Linked DNA regions of Homo sapiens: regions 1, 2, 3 and 5 are each reported to be linked to region 4. Evidence: microRNA targets listed by miRTarBase, many of them from high-throughput screens and not tested one by one. Region 4 holds a microRNA gene; each other region holds the end of a gene's coding sequence.
What was found. Region 4 holds the annotated microRNA hsa-miR-3682-5p (CUACUUCUACCUGUGUUAUCAU, at 2,517-2,538, opposite strand). A microRNA usually pairs through its seed, bases 2 to 8, with sites in the 3' UTR of a target mRNA and lowers its output. Matches are read on the target gene's strand: a 7mer-m8 pairs with bases 2 to 8, a 7mer-A1 pairs with bases 2 to 7 and ends in A, and an 8mer does both.

Region 1: miRTarBase lists IRAG1 as a target of hsa-miR-3682-5p. Seed matches in the 3' UTR shown: 7mer-m8 at 1,075-1,081.
Region 2: the mRNA of TXNDC12 is a reported target of hsa-miR-3682-5p. Seed matches in the 3' UTR shown: 7mer-m8 at 2,338-2,344.
Region 3: miRTarBase lists CEMIP2 as a target of hsa-miR-3682-5p. Seed matches in the 3' UTR shown: 7mer-m8 at 1,338-1,344.
Region 5: miRTarBase lists RDH10 as a target of hsa-miR-3682-5p. Seed matches in the 3' UTR shown: 7mer-A1 at 1,041-1,047 and 7mer-m8 at 2,475-2,481.

Annotation. Positions count from the first base shown.
Region 1 is chr11:10,573,319-10,576,855 of GRCh38, reverse strand. IRAG1 (inositol 1,4,5-triphosphate receptor associated 1) reads left to right here. Exons shown (of 21, transcript NM_130385.4): 21 at 281-3,537. The coding sequence ends at 524. The region is part of intron 1 of IRAG1-AS1 (IRAG1 antisense RNA 1); the gene reads right to left. Among named protein-coding and RNA genes, the nearest start is that of LYVE1, 6.4 kb to the right of the region's middle.
Region 2 is chr1:52,018,185-52,021,721 of GRCh38, forward strand. It overlaps TXNDC12 (thioredoxin domain containing 12), which reads right to left. Exons shown (of 7, transcript NM_015913.4): 7 at 1,947-2,828. The coding sequence ends at 2,749. Among named protein-coding and RNA genes, the nearest start is that of KTI12, 14 kb to the right of the region's middle.
Region 3 is chr9:71,682,714-71,685,713 of GRCh38, reverse strand. It overlaps CEMIP2 (cell migration inducing hyaluronidase 2), which reads left to right. Exons shown (of 24, transcript NM_013390.3): 24 at 321-2,348. The coding sequence ends at 517. Among named protein-coding and RNA genes, the nearest start is that of CEMIP2, 84 kb to the left of the region's middle.
Region 4 is chr2:53,846,654-53,850,190 of GRCh38, forward strand. MIR3682 (microRNA 3682) reads right to left here and starts at 2,552; the gene lies at 2,469-2,552. The region is part of intron 1 of GPR75-ASB3 (GPR75-ASB3 readthrough); the gene reads right to left.
Region 5 is chr8:73,322,533-73,326,069 of GRCh38, forward strand. RDH10 (retinol dehydrogenase 10) reads left to right here. Exons shown (of 6, transcript NM_172037.5): 5 at 147-278; 6 at 381-2,749. The coding sequence ends at 504. The region is part of intron 3 of RDH10-AS1 (RDH10 antisense RNA 1); the gene reads right to left. Among named protein-coding and RNA genes, the nearest start is that of RDH10, 30 kb to the left of the region's middle.

The DNA of each region.
Region 1 (3,537 bases), not on the chromosome of region 4:
ATCTAGATAAGTAGCTCTCAACTTCAAGGCTGTGGACTGGTGGAATCAAAATCACCTGGGAAAATTTAGCCAATGATTCCTGGACCATAACTTTGGATATTCTCATTTAGTATGCTTGGGGTATTTTGAACAATTGCTGCCAACCCAATCTAGGCACAGCTAAGTTTGAGAACTATTGCTCAAGACAGCATGGAAGCTATCCGCAGAGAGAACTGTGGGTCTGTGTATCATATGTGTGCCCAGTATACTAAAGCCTCTGCATATTTTTTTTCATTGACAGCAAACTTGAAGAATTGGTCCATTTCTTACAAGTCATGTATCCCAAACTGTGTCAGCACTGGCAAGTGATCTGGATGATGGCTGCAGTGATGCTGGTCTTGACTGTTGTGCTGGGGCTCTACAATTCCTATAACTCTTGTGCAGAGCAGGCTGATGGGCCCCTTGGAAGATCCACTTGCTCGGCAGCCCAGAGGGACTCCTGGTGGAGCTCAGGACTCCAGCATGAGCAGCCTACAGAGCAGTAGGAAACCTCACACCTAGCCAGTGCCCTGCTCTGAGACACTCAGACTACCACCCTTTCCCCAAGTATAACGTCAGGCCCAAGTGTGGACACACTGCCGCCCATCCCATCAGGTCATGAGGAAGGGTTCTTTTAACACTCGGCACTTCTGTGGGAGCTATTCATACACAGTGACTTGATGTTCTTGGAGGATCAACAAAACTGCCCTGGGAAAGCATCCAGTGGATGAAGAAGTCACCTTCACCAAGGAACTCTATTGGAAGGGAAGGTCTCCTGCCCCTAGCTCAGGTGGCTGGGGAGAACTAAAACACCTTCACTGGTGGTTGGGGGTAAGGAGCGGGGCACGGGGGAGGAGGAGGTAGGGGGCAGTAAAAAACTTACTCTCTTTTTTCCTCTCTGTAATTGGTTATCAGGAAGAATTTGCTTAATGACTAACACCCTAAGCATCAGACCTGGAATTTGGAGTTGCAAAGTGACTATCTTCCCATTTCCCATCTCATTTTCAATAACTTCAGCCTCCCATTCTTTCCTTTGGAATGAGAGTTTCTTTTTACAGAAGTAGGAAAGGCTTCTCAGAAAAAAAAAAAAAAGTATAGGCTGAATTTAGCTCAGTGCTTGAAATGGGAAGATATGAATTATTATATACGCATCTGTCCACACATACACACATACTGTTGTGTACACACACACAACATGCCTGTGCACAGAGCCAACAACCCTTCAAAAGTGTGCTCTGGGTGTGTACCTCTGGATAAATAAGATGCATGCCAAGCCAACCCACAGATTTTCACCAGTGTGGGGCAGTCACCAGGCACCTGTTCAATGAGCTGTCCACATGGATTGAAGATGTTTTAAAAACACAGAAAACTCATGGCTTCAATGGCAGACTTACTAGTCTCCATTTCAAATGCCAACTCTGAGCTGCTGTACAGCACAATCTATTCCCTATTCTCTCTTTGAAAACAGTTAACCCACCTCACAGGTGAATGAGGAGAGAAGATGTGCTTTCTGCTTCAGTCTCTTACTCTGTGTGTGACCACATGCAAGAGTAAACTTGCACCTCAGTGCTTCAGTTCAAATGGGGTTTCCAACCCCAGTATAATTAGGGGTGTTTCAGAGCATCCCCAGTTATTTAGCACAACACTGAAGGAGCACATCCCCTCTCCATTTTGACTTCTCTCCCCACTTTTACAGCCACTGCCTTCATCAGTTTTGTAGAGGTTTGATTTCCATGTGGGTTTTGTTGTCATTGTTTTGCATTTTTGTTTTGTTATTGATATTGTTTGCTTTCATTGCTAAAACTCATATACGACTTACTATGAGCCAAGCACTGTTCTCAGTATTACATAGGTATGAATTCATTTAAGTCCTGAAGAAAAAGAAAAAAAAATACGAAGTGGATATTACCCTTCCCATTTTCAAATAAGGAAACTGAAGCACAAAAAGAACAAGTAACTTGACAAGGACACCCCGGTAGTAAATCATGGGGCTGGAGCTCAACCCCAGGGTAGGCTGGCTCCAGAGCTGTGCTCTCCTTGACTCTTCTGATGGTCTCCTAGCTGGAAGCCTCACATTTCAGTCTCATTCCCCCAAGTGGCCCATCAGCTACTCCATCTCTGGCTCCCCAACTAAACAGTTTCTCTCATAGTGCTGGACCTCCACTCACTAGTTTTTTTTCCAGCTGTTCTTCTCTTTTCTTCAGGTCACTCTTCTCGACCGAGTGCAAAAATTATCCCCTCCATACCAGCTTTGATGACCTTCCTTCCATACTCCTCACCAGACACAACATAATAGGTCACACACTCCTCTGTGCTTTCTGGCACGTTTTAAACATTATTATTATTGACCTTTACCTATAGTATACCATGGCCTATTTATGTATCCATCTCCCCTAGCATTTTTCCTCAAAGACAAGAACCATGTCTTACCCATCTCTTGGGTAAGTGCCTAGCATGGTGGCTGACGCTTGGGAGGGTGTCATTAAATGTTGCTCAAAAGAACAAGCAAACATTTAAGGTGGTGGAGAGCAGCCTGGGGACAGCTGACATGCTGCATGCTTCTCAGTACCAGCACCATCACAATGCAAAAAGCAACATCTTTCTTAACCTCAGCTTATTCTGTTTTTCAGTCTACTCTGTGAGAGAGCAGGAATGAGACCAGACTAGCAACACCATTGCCAAGCTCAAGGACTGGGCTCAATGCAGTCACTCCTTCAGAGAGACCCCCCACCCCAAGCATGCCCCACTTTAAAATAGCATGTTTATTGAAGGGGGCATCCTTTACAGTAGCTAGAAAATGACTGAGGCCCAAGCCAGGGTTGATCAAGGATGTGCCATTAAGGTAAAGAGTTACAGAGCAGGGCAGAGGGACTCTGGGGGCAGAAGTGGATGATTTGCCCGGCCTCTTCCAGGGGGTCTGGATACAACTGAAGGAGCTTTAGCTACATGAGGCCCTCAGAGCCAAAGACAGGATGCAAATAGAGTTCTAGAGAGTGGCCGTGGAAGCAGAACTCCAGGTGGGGAATGTTCAATCTCTGCCTCCCTTAAAGCAGGGCCAGGCTCAGCTGGCCCCATTGTTCACTTGGTCACAAGTTTCCTACCTTTGTTTCTGGATGAGTCAAAGGCCAGGAAGGCAGTTATGGAGAGCTCCTGCACCTCCAGCTGCCCCACAGAAAAGCCTGCAAGAGTACTTCCAGGCACAGGCCCTCTCCCACCCTATTCCATTTGTAAGCAAGGGAGGTCGAGGAAAAGGACATCTCCAAAAGGGAGCATAAGAATAGCCATATATACAGGGGCTGAAAAAGTGCTCATGAGTCCATCTTTTCTGGAAAGCAAAGACCAGCCTGAAGCAGTGGGAGCTGCTGCCCAAGCGGTAGTGAACTGGAGAGAAACAGGCCCTGGATTTTCAGTGAGGATGTGGATCTGAAGAGTCCCCCAAATGCCTCTGAAGTCTGACATCTCTGCTTAGCCCTAGGAGTCTGGTTCCCTGCCTTCAGTTGCAGAGTGATGTGTTTGTGT
Region 2 (3,537 bases), not on the chromosome of region 4:
ACTCCAGCCTGGGTGACAAGAGCGAGACTCCATCCCCCCCAAAAAAAAAAAAAAAAAAAAAACAAATTAGATGAGCATGGTGATGGGTGCCTGTAATCCCTGCTGCTTGGGAGGCAGAGGCAGGAGAATCGCTTGAATCCGGGAGGCATTCAATGTTGCGGTGAGCCAAGACCTCGCCATTGCACTCCAGCCTGGGCAATAAGAGCGAAACTCCGTCTCAAACAACAACAACAACAACAACAACAACAAAAGAACCTGGCTAGTCTTTGCCTTCTCTAAAGTTCCCCCTAAAATGACGTTACTAATACCTATCCCACAGGACCACTGATGGTGTTTAGAGAATGGATGAAAAGAACCTAACATAGACCTTGGCAAGTCACCTGAAAGTTTTAGATACACAGGACAGAGGACTAGCTTCTGCCCTCGAGGAGAATGGCCACCTGATGACAGCCCCAGATGTGCAATTGGGTTACTTCAATGTAAAGTGGTCCAGGGCTATGATAGATGTATTGGGGAAAGGATATTTTATCCTCATGAGAAAGATCAGGGAAGACTCTCTGGAAGAAGTGGCTCAAAATGGGTATGAAGGAAGAACAGAAAGAACATATTTTAGGCTGAGGAAACAAGATGAACGAAGATAGAAAAGCATAAAACAGCATGTTGTCAGGAGAACTCAAAGCAATTTGGTGTCACAAGAACACATAATGCAAAAACATAAATGGGAATAAATGAGGTTGAAGAAGTAGGCAGCTTCTTAAAGGCCATGGTAAAGATCTTGACTTTATCCTGTGTCTTGGCTTCCTTATGTTTCAAATTCTTCCTCTGTACTCTGGGAGTACAGTAGTACCTTTATCACAGGGCTGTTAGGAGTACTAAAGTGAAACTAAATGGGATAACATATATAAAGCACTTAGAAGAGTACTTGGCACAGACTGAGGTTCAAATATCTCCTACCATTAATACTATTATCTTAAAGATGGCTGGAAAGGTTTTTTTTTTTTTTTTTTTTTTTTTTTTTTTTGAGATGGAGTTTCACTCTTGTTGCCCAGGCTGGAGTGCAATGGCACAATCTCAGTTCACCACAACCTCCGCCTCCCGGGTTCAAGCGATTCTCCTGCCTCAGCCTCCTGAGTAGCTGGGATTACAGGCATGTGCCACCACATCCGGCTAATTTTGTTGTTTTTGTTTTGTTTTGTTTTTTTGAGACGGAGTCTCGCTCTGTCACCCAGGCTGGAGTGCAGTGGTGCGATCTCGGTTCCCTGCAAGCTCCGCCTCCCGGGTTCACGCCATTTTCCTGCTTCAGCCTCCCGAGTAACTGGGACTACAGGCGCCCACCACCGCGCCTGGCTAATTTTTTTTTTTTTTTTTGTATTTTTAGTAGAGACGGGGTTTCACCGTGGTCTCGATCTCCCGACCTCGTGATCCGCCCGCCTCGGCCTCCCAAAGTGCCGGGATTACAGGCGTGAGTCACCGCGCCCGGCCTAATTTTGTATTTTTAGTAGAGCCGGGGTTTCGCCATGTTGGCCAGGCTGGTCTCGAACTCCCTACCTCAGGTGATTCGCCCACCTTGGCCTCCCAAAGTGCTGGGAGTACAGGCGTGAGCCACTGTGTCCAGCCAGGAAAGGTTTTAAACAGGGGAGTGATATGGATCGATTGCAGGAGGAGGGAATATTAGAGCCAATAGGCAAGTTAAGGGGCTATAGCAATAAATAGTCGAAGAGAGAAAAAGCCTGCCCCGTGCTAAAACAGTGATAGTGTGGACAGAGGAAATTCAGGTATTTAAAAAGTAAAAGAGAGGAGCCATTGTGCTCATTTGAATGTGGGAGGTGAAGGAGCAGGAGTCCTAGGTTAGGACTCCTAGATTAGGTCCTCTAGGTTAGTTTTCTTCCTGAAGTGATCTCCATCCCTCCCTCCTTTTCCAATAACAAAAAGGCCATCACAGCACATTTCCTTTTAAAGTTTTATTAAAGTTTAATGGTACAATATTTTATCTCTTTTTTTGTTAATGCCAGTACAAAAATACAGTTGATGACTTGACAAAATGGCTACACCTAGGGCTTGAAGGTTTGAGTTTCTCCAACAGTAACAAGGGAAAGCATGCTTCCACCTGGAGCCGAGTCCAAGCACACAGCCAGTCCTGCACACGCATGCGTGCAAACAGGGAAGCTCAAGCATGAGAAGAGGAAAGAGGCTGTAGAAATTTGGGAAGAAGCCCACAATTATTCCCAGGAGAAAAAAGGGAAAAAACAGGCTGATATCCTTGGTAGGGGGTAGAATAACTGATTTACACTTAGGATTTATTGTTATTGTTGTTGTTGTTGTTTTTTAATGATAAGCTACTTCTGCAATTTTAACGTTGTAGAAAAGATGCTACTAGTCTCCTTTCACCACTAAGGTGAGTAAAGTGGGAGGAAATGGGAAAAGACTCAAATACTTAAGTGCGAGGAGTAAACATCCAAGTGGCTCAAGTTTTGTGTCAGAAGGTTTCATTCTTTACATTCAATGACAAGTTGACATTTAGGTGAGAGGGAAAAGGAGAAGAAAGTCTGCCACTCTCCGCTGGATCCACAAACATGCAGACCAGCTTCTGTTAGCAGAACTCTTCCACAGTGAGAGCGCTCCTTCCAGTGTAGGTAGGAATGAGGTTTCCTGGTCGGCTTAATTGTTCTAGATGATTCCTCAATATTCCCTTCCCTGCTGCTTTCCTTCCAGAACACTAACTCTGATGAAAGAAGGGGCACATTCATGTTACAATTCATCTTCAAGATGTTTCTTTCTGAAGGCATCACCCGTCAGCCTTTCCTGAGCTTCCTTCATCCCCTGAACAACTGTGAAATAAAGATTGGAGGAAAAAAGTATGAAGTAAGTAATGTTTGACATTTGACAACCAATGTACACTTTTAAATGTTTCAGAAGAAATATGAGAGGAGTACAAGATCTGGACTCAAGATCTAGCTCTGGATTTTGGCCCTGGCAAGTCATTTATCTCTTTGAATTTGTTTCCTCATTTATAAAATGAAATAATGTAACTCACTTCACACAGTATTATAAAAGTTAAATGGGAGAATGGATAATAAAAGTGCTTTATCAACTACGAAGTCATACCAAAATCTTAGCAGTTATTTTGGCTTACCCTCTAGGATTAGAGCTGATCCCCTGTCCTAGACTGTAGATGTTCACTTCACCCCCAGGGAAGAGGAAACACCTTCCTACCGTCCCCATTGTATCTTTTGGATGAATGTTGCACTTATTTTACTTCCTGTGGAGGTTACAGATTACACTGAGGGGTGTGTGTGCTGGGGCGGGGGTGTCTCTACTGAAGGGGGTCGTCATTTCCAGTATCAACTATACATGGATGAAGCCAAGTTCTCAGGCCAAAAAAAAAAAAAAAAAAAAAGAGAGAGAGAAACCTGGAAGGAGGGCCTTAAGTAGACTCGAGATGAAACTTCTTGTCTGTCTTGGGGCATCCTGCTTATGGATTTAGACTCAAGGGGGACAGCTATTTCAGTATAGGCTCCTGAATGGTGGTTCTACAAA
Region 3 (3,000 bases), not on the chromosome of region 4:
TTACAGGGCCAGCAACATAGGTAATTTTATGGTGCAATTCAGCTACCAGACCATTTTCATGAGCTTGTTTGCTGGAGTGGGTATCATTAAGATGATTTCTAAATAAGGGCACAATGTGAGAGGAAGTGTGTTGGGATGTGGTTTGTTATCTGGGGCAAAAGGTGGGTGGTGAGAGTTCATTTGCTGATGTAAGGAAGTGCAGAGTTTTTTAATAGCTGCCTTTGTTTTGCTCACCTCCGACTCACCTCCTATATTCTCTTGCTGGAATGTAGCTATAAAAATTGATTTTTTTTCTTTTTCTTTTTTTTTTTTTTTTTTAGGGAGTACCATATTTTTGGGATTCAGTGGAAACTTTAAACCATCATGGACTAAGCTATTTACCAGTCCTGCTGGACAGGGCCTTGGGGTGCTTGAACAATTCATACCTTTGCAGCTGGACGAATATGGTTGTCCCAGAGCCACCACTGTCCGCAGAAGAGACCTGGAACTGCTAAAGCAAGCTTCAAAAGCACATTAGAGACTAACTGTAACTTAAGTGCTGGGGGAAAAAAAATGTGAACTAACTTATTTAATTTATGGCATTTTAAAATGACACTGTTAACCCAACGGAACCATTTTCCAGTTTGATACAGAATGGGGAGAAAAGAAAGCGTTTGAAATTATTGCTTGGATACCAGCTTCATGCACCTTCTAGTTGTACAAAATGTTAAAGACGTTGTTTGTATTTGTAAGGCTGGTGTATTCAGAGAGCAGATCTCTTATTCCTCACTTTCCACCCCCGTATTTTGTAATGACCATGAGCAATGTTTTTACTTTTTGTATAATGGGGTGGGGTGGAGTGGGGGCTTCTGAGAGTCAGCCTGAGGTCTTTAGAGGACCAGCTATTGTAGCACCTTGGATACTTGAAGTTTAATGCTCAGTTGGGTCGGGTGGCAGTTGACTTGGTGGCTGGCATGTTCAGCAGTGCCTGGGGCCCTGTTTCTGGGCAGCCTTTGAGGATTTTCTATGATATTGAATGACAGTTTTAAGTGGCAACTCAGGCCCAGCTCATGCCCTTTTTTGCCTGGACATGTGCTATTTTTATTCACTTATATATCAATTACTTGTAAGGGTTAAACTTTCAAACAGGAAGTATATTGGGACAAAAGGGCTCTTGGGGATTAGATATCCCTTTAATCTGTGACCATTGGGCAAAAAATTTTCCTGCAGCAAAAGTCTGAGGCTGTTGGGACCATTTTTGCAGCTTTAATCCTTAGCCTCTTTTGACTGTATATTTGTGTTTAAAATGCAGAGCTCAACTGAATATTTCCTTTTTTGTTTTGTTTTGTTTTGTTTTAAGAAGTAGGTTGTTTTCCTGAACCGTAAACTTGTATCATTTTAACTTGCACAAAGGAAGTCTGTTCTTGGTATTGCTCTTGCACTTGGGTTTTTTGTTATTGTTTTGTGTGGATTTTTTAAAGCTTTTCTGTTCACCCTCCTGCCAGGAAAATCCCAGAAAGCTTAATGATACCCCAAAATGATTACACCCAGGGAGGAAAAAAAGGAGCGCTTTCTAGGGTCAGAATCGTGGAGAGAATACTCAGAAATGAACCTCTTTAAAGCCTTGCAGGAATGAGTCACTCTTACTTAATGAAATGTTAAAGCCAATTAAAAAGCATGCTGTGATGCCCAGCTTCCCTTTCCACAGGGTGCATGCGTCTCCTGCTGGTGAATCACATGCGGCAAGAGGCAACTGGCTCCACAGCCTGGGATGCTGCCGTACCAAGAGGAAAGAAGCAGCAAAATGCCTTTACGTTGTTCTAAACCCCCGACGCATAAAGTGTAGAGGAGGGATGGCCAAGGGTGGGTGGTAGAAAGTGTGTTCAGGCTGACACTGGCAATGAGTACAGATAATTTCACTTTCCTCTTCTAGGGGCAAAGGCTGATGGCCTCTACCTTTGTATCCAGGAGAAACTGCAGAGCAGCCCTGTGACTTTACAAAATATGCTACCTCAAAGTGCTACCGATAAACCTTTCTAATTGTAAGTGCCCTTACTAAGGGCACATGTCTTAATCAAAGTTAGTTTTTTGTTTTCTGGTTTGTTTTTTTTTTTTGTATATTGATGAATGAGATCTTACCTATTAAATATATTATTGGATTATGGTTCCTGAAGGTCATTAGAGTGTGTGTGTGTGTGTGTGTGTGTGTGTGTGTTTTATGACTTAAATATCTTTACGTGTGTTTTTTAGAGCTTGGTTCTTTAAAGATTTGGAGAAGATATGTAAATTACCAAGGCACTTGGTTTTTCTGTTTTATATACTAATAATCAGGGCCTAAGTTAAATAAAAATATGTGTGCATGTATTTTATATATGTGTGTATGTGAATTTATTTATTATTTATTTTATTATTATTGTTATTATTTTTGAGATGGAGTCTCGCTCTGTCACCCAGGCTGGAGTGAGGTGATGCAGTCTCAGCTCGCTGCAACCTCCACCTCCCAGGTTCAAGTGATTCTCCTGCCTCAGCCTCCCAAGTAGCTGGGATTACAGGCACCCGCCACCATGCACTGCTAATTTTTGTATTTTTAGTAGAAGTGGGGTTTCACCGTGTTGGCCAGGCTGGTCTTGAACTCCTGACCTCAAGTGATACTCCTGCTTTGGCCTCCCAAAGTGCTAGCATTACAGGCATGAGCCACCGCGCCTGGCCTGTATGTGAATTTATATCTCTATCTATAAATTTAAAATTCCAGATTCCAGCTGTAAAGAAGTTACTGACGGAAGTGAGGAAGACACTTGGTGGACAGAATCCACCAAGTAAATATTGTAAGAGTAAGCTTCAGAAGGGCAGGGACTGTATTCTCCAAGGCAGAGGTTCTCCATCTTGGCTGCACACTGGAATTACCTGAGGAGCTTTAAAAAAAAATATAGAGGCCTGGACTTTACTCCCTTCCCCCCAGATTCAGATTTAATTGGTGTTGGGTGCAGCCTGAGCACTGGAATTTTTTTTAAAGCTCCCTGG
Region 4 (3,537 bases):
GATTACAGGCGCAAGCCACCGCGCCTGGCCTTCATGTTGTTTTTTAATTCGAATTGTCTTTTATATATGATATTATATATGATATTAAGCATATATATAAATTCTTTTATATATGATATTAAGCATTTCCATTTATCCAGTTATTTCTGTAATCCTACATTATGTTTTATAAATTTTGTTTTCTTAGTATTTCATTCCCTCTGCTATTTGATAAAACTTACTTTCTCAGACTACATGACATGCTAGCTAATGGCAAAGGGATAGGAAATGGGAAGTGGAGGACATTATAAAATACCAATCACAGCTTCTTGACCAACGGAAGCAAGCAAAGTCTGTACTAATCCCCATTTATTCTTTATCCTGGTGTGTGTGTGTGTGTGTCTATGAAACATTTTCAACCAATTTCTTCTTTTTACTCTTGATGATTAAATTTGTTTGTTGGTGGTAAATTTTATAATTTGGTCCTTAGGTTACAGAATATCACGTTGAGATTTTTGACTGAACTAGAAGAATAATGAACATCACTGAGAAACCCAGAGATTGATCAGACTTAGCATCTTCCCTCTGGAGGAGAGTATGCATTTTTTATTTTGTTTTGTTTTGTGACAGGATCTCACTGCAGGCTGGATTGCACTGGTGTGATCTTGGCTCACTGCAGCCTAGGCCTCCTGGACTCACTCAGGCGATCTTCCCACCTCAGCCTCCCCAGTAGCTGGGACTACAGGTACCTGCCACCATGCCCAAGTAACTTTTCTGTAGAAACGGGGTTTTGTCACGTTGCCCAGGTGGGTCTCAAACTCCTGGGCTCAAGCGATCCTCCCACTTCAGCCTCCCAAAGTGCTGAGATTGCTATGCAGCGCCTAGCAAAGTACATATTTTTGTTTAAATGAGAGAAGCTGCATTATTTCAAGAGGGAGAATGGTGGTATAGCTACTGCTGTTGTTTGGGAGTATGGCTAGAGGTATGTATAAAAAATGTTGACTACTGGCCGGATGCAGTGGCTCACGCCTATAATCACAGCACTTTGGGAGGGTGAGGTGGGTGGATCACCTGAGGTCAGGAGTTCAAGACCAGCCTGGCCAACATGGTGAAACCCCGTCTCTGCTACAAAAATTAGCTGGGCGTGTTGGCGCATGCCTGTAATCCCAGCTACTCAGGAGGCTGAGGCAGGAAAATCGCTTGAACCCAGGAGGTGGAGGTTGCAGTGAGCCGAGATTGCACCACTACACTCCAGCTTGGGCAACAGAGTGAGAACCCATCTCAAAAAAAAAAACAAATGTTGACTACCAAGGTGAACCTCTGTGGACAGAACAGATTAGAACTCTGCATCTCCTTTGAGTATACTTTTGTGTTAGTACACTTTCCAGATTTCCCTGAAGCTAGGGTTCTAGATGCAAACTTAGTTTCTCCATCTAACTGCATGGTGCCAGATTTTTTCTATAGCAGTGTCTTGTTGTTCAGCCACTTGCTTTGTAGGTGTCAAGAGAGTTTTTTGTGGAAATAGTAGTGGCAGCAACTTCCTCACTGGTGGACAACAACTTTAACAGTGTGTTCTTGAAGTCAAAAGTCCAAGGTAGGCTTCCTGACTTCCTCTCTTCTTGGTTGGAGCAGAAGTAGTAGCATTTATGGCTGGTCCGGCTGGTCATGTTTATGGTGCAATCTTTCCTGGAGACTCATCATAGAGCCCTATCTAACCATTCTGTAGACATCTAGTTTCCTATATTAAATGCTTTCCTGCTTATGTTAATGTTTTTTGATTCTTAAATCCAGACCCTGATCGATAAACCAAAAATTCAAAATTTTTCTTTTTCCAGCTAAATTTCATTTAAATGAGTTGCTCAAATGTTCATTTAGCCTCTTTTCACTGAGTAAGAAACTTAGTTTTGTAAATAGTCTTTGGCATTAACTATCCTTGATTAGTCTGAGCATATATGATACAAAATGTAACGCCTCTATTCCCAGCACTTTGGAAGGCTGAGGCGGGAGGATCGCTTGAGCCCATGAGTTGGAGACCAACCTGGGCAACATAGGGAGACCCCGTCTCTACAAAAAAAAAAAAAAATTTATATATAGTCAAACAAGTTATTTCATCTCTTAAGGCAAAGAGCTCTCTGTCTGTGGTTCAACACATTGTTATCCATTGGGCAAAAATGATCATTGCCATGCTCTGATAGTTTTAAAATGATCAGACAGGAAATTCATTATATTGCAAACTGGTGTTCAGAAATGTTAGGATTTTCAGTATTTTTATTTTCCAAACATTATTTTAAAAGAACATTAAAAGCATTAGAAATACAAATCTTGCCTAATGGTTAACATACGAACAATTATTATAAAATGTTTAAAATACGTCACATACTTTGCATCACAGTAAGCATCAAGAGAACTAATTAACATATCCTGATAATTAATCATATTCAACTGAATTCTCATTACTTTTAGTTCTCATTTTAGCCCTTATGAAGAGATAAGTTATATATTTCTACCTCCACCTGTATCATCATGACACCTTTATTATGATAACACAGGTAGAAGTAGACATATATAACTTACGAAGAAAGAAGTTATGTCTCTATAGATATAGAGATATAGATACGGACGGGGGCTATGAATCGAGCCCACTATGTATTTCATGCAATTTATAACAATAATTTTTTTAACTTTTCTTTTGGAGATTATTTTTTGATGAGCATAAAGAGACAATACCTCATATGCACCTGCTTAGTTTTCTTTGTGCTGTAATTTTTACCTCCCAATGATGGGCCTCATGCCAGTCAAATCATCTCAAACTCAAACGTCACACAGAAAACCTGCCATTTTAAATTTTATAAATAGAAATTACTTTTGTGTTAATATTTTATTGTATCACATTTGAAATGCCTAGCCAATTTTTGTATTTTTAATAGAGACAAGGTTTTTTGCATAGCCAAAAAAATAGATATATGCCTTTAAAAATGTGATGCTTGATTAATGTTGTCTTCATTATAAAGCTGTTTGGCACACTGGGGTAAATACCAGGTTTTGAATTAAGACAAAAATCTAATTCCTAATTTGCCACAATTCTTTGTACGATCTTGGGAAAGAATATTAGATTTCTTAATTCTTTGTTAAAAAGAGATAATAGGCCAGTGCACTGGCTCACGCCTGTAATCCCAGTACTTAGGTAGGCCGAGGTGGGTGGATCACAAGGTCAGAAGTTTGAGACCAGCCTGGCTAACTTGGTGAAACCTTGTCTCTATTAAAAATACAAAAATTAGCTGGGAGTGGTGGTGCGTGCCTGTAGTCCCAGCTACTCGGGAGGCTGACACAGGAGAATCGCTTGAACCTGGGAGGCGGAGGTTGCAGTGAGCCGAGATTGTGCCACCGCACTCCATCCTGGGCAACAAGCATGAGACTCCATCTTAAAAAAAAGAAAAGGGAAAAAGGGAAGGAGGGAGGGAGAAAGGGAAAGAAGGAGGGAGTAGGTAGGCAAATCAGTCTAAAAGGTGAACTTAAAAACAAAATAATTCGAGGCTGCCCCTGGGTGTGGCAAGAAAA
Region 5 (3,537 bases), not on the chromosome of region 4:
AAAATACAGAAAAGCACTATGAAGAAAACAAAATGTACCCAAAATCCCATCACTCAGATAACATCACTGTTAATGTTTTGATATGTATTTCCAGTCTTTTCTATTGTGTTAATTTTTCATTTTGTTTTTGAATAAATAACTTTCAGGAAAGAAATTGAGCCTTTTCTGCCACCTCTGAAGCCTGATTACTGTGTGAAGCAGGCCATGAAGGCCATCCTCACTGACCAGCCCATGATCTGCACTCCCCGCCTCATGTACATCGTGACCTTCATGAAGAGGTAACTGGGAGGGGTTCCCTCACTGACTGGGTCTCTCCATGCCTGCCCGATGTCTTAATTGAAACTTCAAGTTTGCTAACAGCTGTGACTTCCCTTTTTCAGCATCCTACCATTTGAAGCAGTTGTGTGCATGTATCGGTTCCTAGGAGCGGACAAGTGTATGTACCCCTTTATTGCTCAAAGAAAGCAAGCCACAAACAATAATGAAGCAAAAAATGGAATCTAAGAATCTTTTTGTATGGAATATTACTTCTATCAGAAGATGATCAAGATGTTTCAGTCCAGTGCACATCAGCATTGCTGACATTTTATGGATTCTAAACTTGTGTTGTTTCTTTTTTAAATCAACTTTTTAAAAAAATAAAGTGTAAATTAACCGACTAGAGTACTTGGAAAATGTGATCAGTACAAGTGAACTTAGGTTGTTGCCAACAGGGTCCTTTTAGGCAGAACCCAGAAACCAGTCAAATCTGTAGAGAAGCAGTGTGACATCTTCAGGTTACCATTATTTTTTAATGAGCAGGAAGTCTAGAAATGATAACTAGACTGTATGTTTCATGTGTGTGATTTTTCAGAATTCCCAGAGTTTACTCATTCTTGTTATTAAACTCTAGCCAGTTGACATCTTCGCAATTTCAAGGACTGATAGTGCTGTATTTTCTCACGTTTTCTAAGTTTCCGTTTTGCAAGGCCTAGGTGACTTTTTCATGGTGTTTGTATGTTTAGCTCTTTTGAAAAGGAATTTTGAAATCTCCATCAACTGAAGTAAATGATGTCTGAGTGTTACAGTAAAGGTGACCAAGTCTCTTTCTTAAAGTCACAATGACTAAAGTATTAGTTGAATTTTTTTTTTTTTTTTTTTGATGGAGTCTCGCTCTGTCACCAGGCTGGAGTGCAGTAGCACAATCACGGCTCACTGCAATCTCTGCCTCCCAGTTTCAAGTGATTCTGCTGTCTCAGCCTCCCAAGTAGCTGGGACTACAGGCATGCGCCACCACGCCCAGCTAATTTTTGTATTTTTAGTAGAGACGGGGTTTCACCATGTTGGTCAGGATGGTCTCCATCTCTTGACATTGTGATCCACCTGCCTCGGCCTCCCAAAGTGCTGGGATTACAGGCATGAGCCACTGCACCCAGCCTTGAATTTTTAATTTTATCTCTGATATACTTCATTAAGTGTCTGGAGACCTAATTATCCTAAAAGATCATACATTTTCTACCTATGAATTTTGCTGCATACAGAAAGTGCCCTTTCCTCAGGAAGTTGCTGTGTTTCATTTCTTTGGATGGACTCTTATCTAGAATACATAGCAGCTCTGCAAAGGAACAGTTTTTAAAAATGGGAACTTCTACATTGAAAAGTCCCCATTTTTGTGCCAACTATGATTAGTGAGAGGAAGAAATCTTATTCTATGGCATATGTATGGAAGGGTGTAAAGATTCTTTTGAAAGGTTTATTCACATTGTAGAACAGCAAATGACATTTTTACAGTATTTTTTTGTAAAGCAAACTATTTTGTGCCTTGAATTTGGTATATGTGTATTAGTGAAACATTGTAAAGGTGAACTTCTACCTCTGTATCTAAATGTATACCATCCACTTGTAAATGACTATAAACTATTATGTGATTGCTTTTTTTTTTAGAATGTCTTGTTTAAATAGTGGCCAATGTTTAAGGCTGTTAAAATAAGCCAACTTTTACTAATTGGGGAGTTTTATAAATGACTGATTAAATTTAAAGAATTAACTTACATGCAATTGTGTGATTATTAGTTATCAGCAGTGTTGTAAGGAAAATTATTGTGTTTTTTTTTATGATCATTATCCCACTTTAGGTAAAGAAAAATATTGGAATGGAATAGTGTTGGGAAACAGACATTAACAACCTAGGGTGCCTGCACTCAAATAGCCGATGTTACTGTCCCTAGATTAGAGACTTGATTAAGGGCTTGTTTGTACCAAAAGTGGGGAAACAATGCCATGACCTGTGTTTTAGTTTGGCTGCACCACAGATCAAATCTGCACTGTGTCTACATATAGGAAAGGTCCTGGTGTGTGCTAATGTTCCCAATGCAGGACTTGAGGAAGAGCTCTGTTATATGTTTCCATTTCTCTTTATCAAAGATAACCAAACCTTATGGCCCTTATAACAATGGAGGCACTGGCTGCCTCTTAATTTTCAATCATGGACCTAAAGAAGTACTCTGAAGGGTCTCAACAATGCCAGGTGGGGACAGATATACTCAGAGATTATCCAGGTCTGCCTCCCAGCGAGCCTGGAGTACACCAGACCCTCCTAGAGAAATCTGTTATAATTTAACAACCCACTTATCCACCTTAAAACTGAGGAAAGTCGTCTTTACATCTAATTTTATTCTTGTGTGTTATAACTTAAACCTATTTCTATTTTTGTTTGTTATTGCCCTTATAAGGGTGTCCATCTCCAAGTTCAATAAACTAATTCATTTAACTTTTTTGTAGAAGTCTTTCATTCCCATGTCCCAGCCCAGTTCAATCACTTCTGTGGCTCTTCCTTGAATGTTGTCCATATTCTCCCTCCCATCTTTAGCTGTGGAGTTTGGAAAGGGATACAGTTAATGCAGGTTTAGAACTATGGAATTCCTACAAGTTGCATTTCTTCATCCCAATGTCACGTTCTTATTAATGCTACATTGCTGATTGTGTGCATTATTGTTTCTAAACATGAAATCTCTTCTAGACAAGTCTGCCTGTTTGTGTTGATCACTTATGTAATTGCCAAGGTTGCTTTTCTGGCTGGTTATTTATCTACACCTGCCCCCACCCCTTAACATGAATGCTGACTTTGAATATGTTCTCTTTTTTGTCATCTGGCCCATTCATGTGAATGTTCAGGGCCACTGCACTCAAGGCTGATCCCCTAAGGAGCACCACCTCTGTCTGTGAGCACCACCCCCAGCTCATACTGGCACTCTCCCTTTCTCTAACCTTTCAACCAATTTAATGATAATTATATTGAGTGGGACCCAGGAATCAAAAGTTTTGAAGCCAACAAACATAAATTCCAACTATTGTTTTCCCCCTTGATCTACCAGGTCTGCTGCTCTGTCACAAAAGATTAGATTAGCCTGACAGGATTGAGCTACGTAAAGCCAGGCTGGGGTGTGTGTGTGTGTGTGTGTGTGTGTGTGTGTGTGTGTGTGTGTGTGTGTGTGTGTGTGTGTTAGGTATCCTGTTTCCTTAGAAGGCTGTAGCTTTCAAATTTTCTCAAGTTAAAAG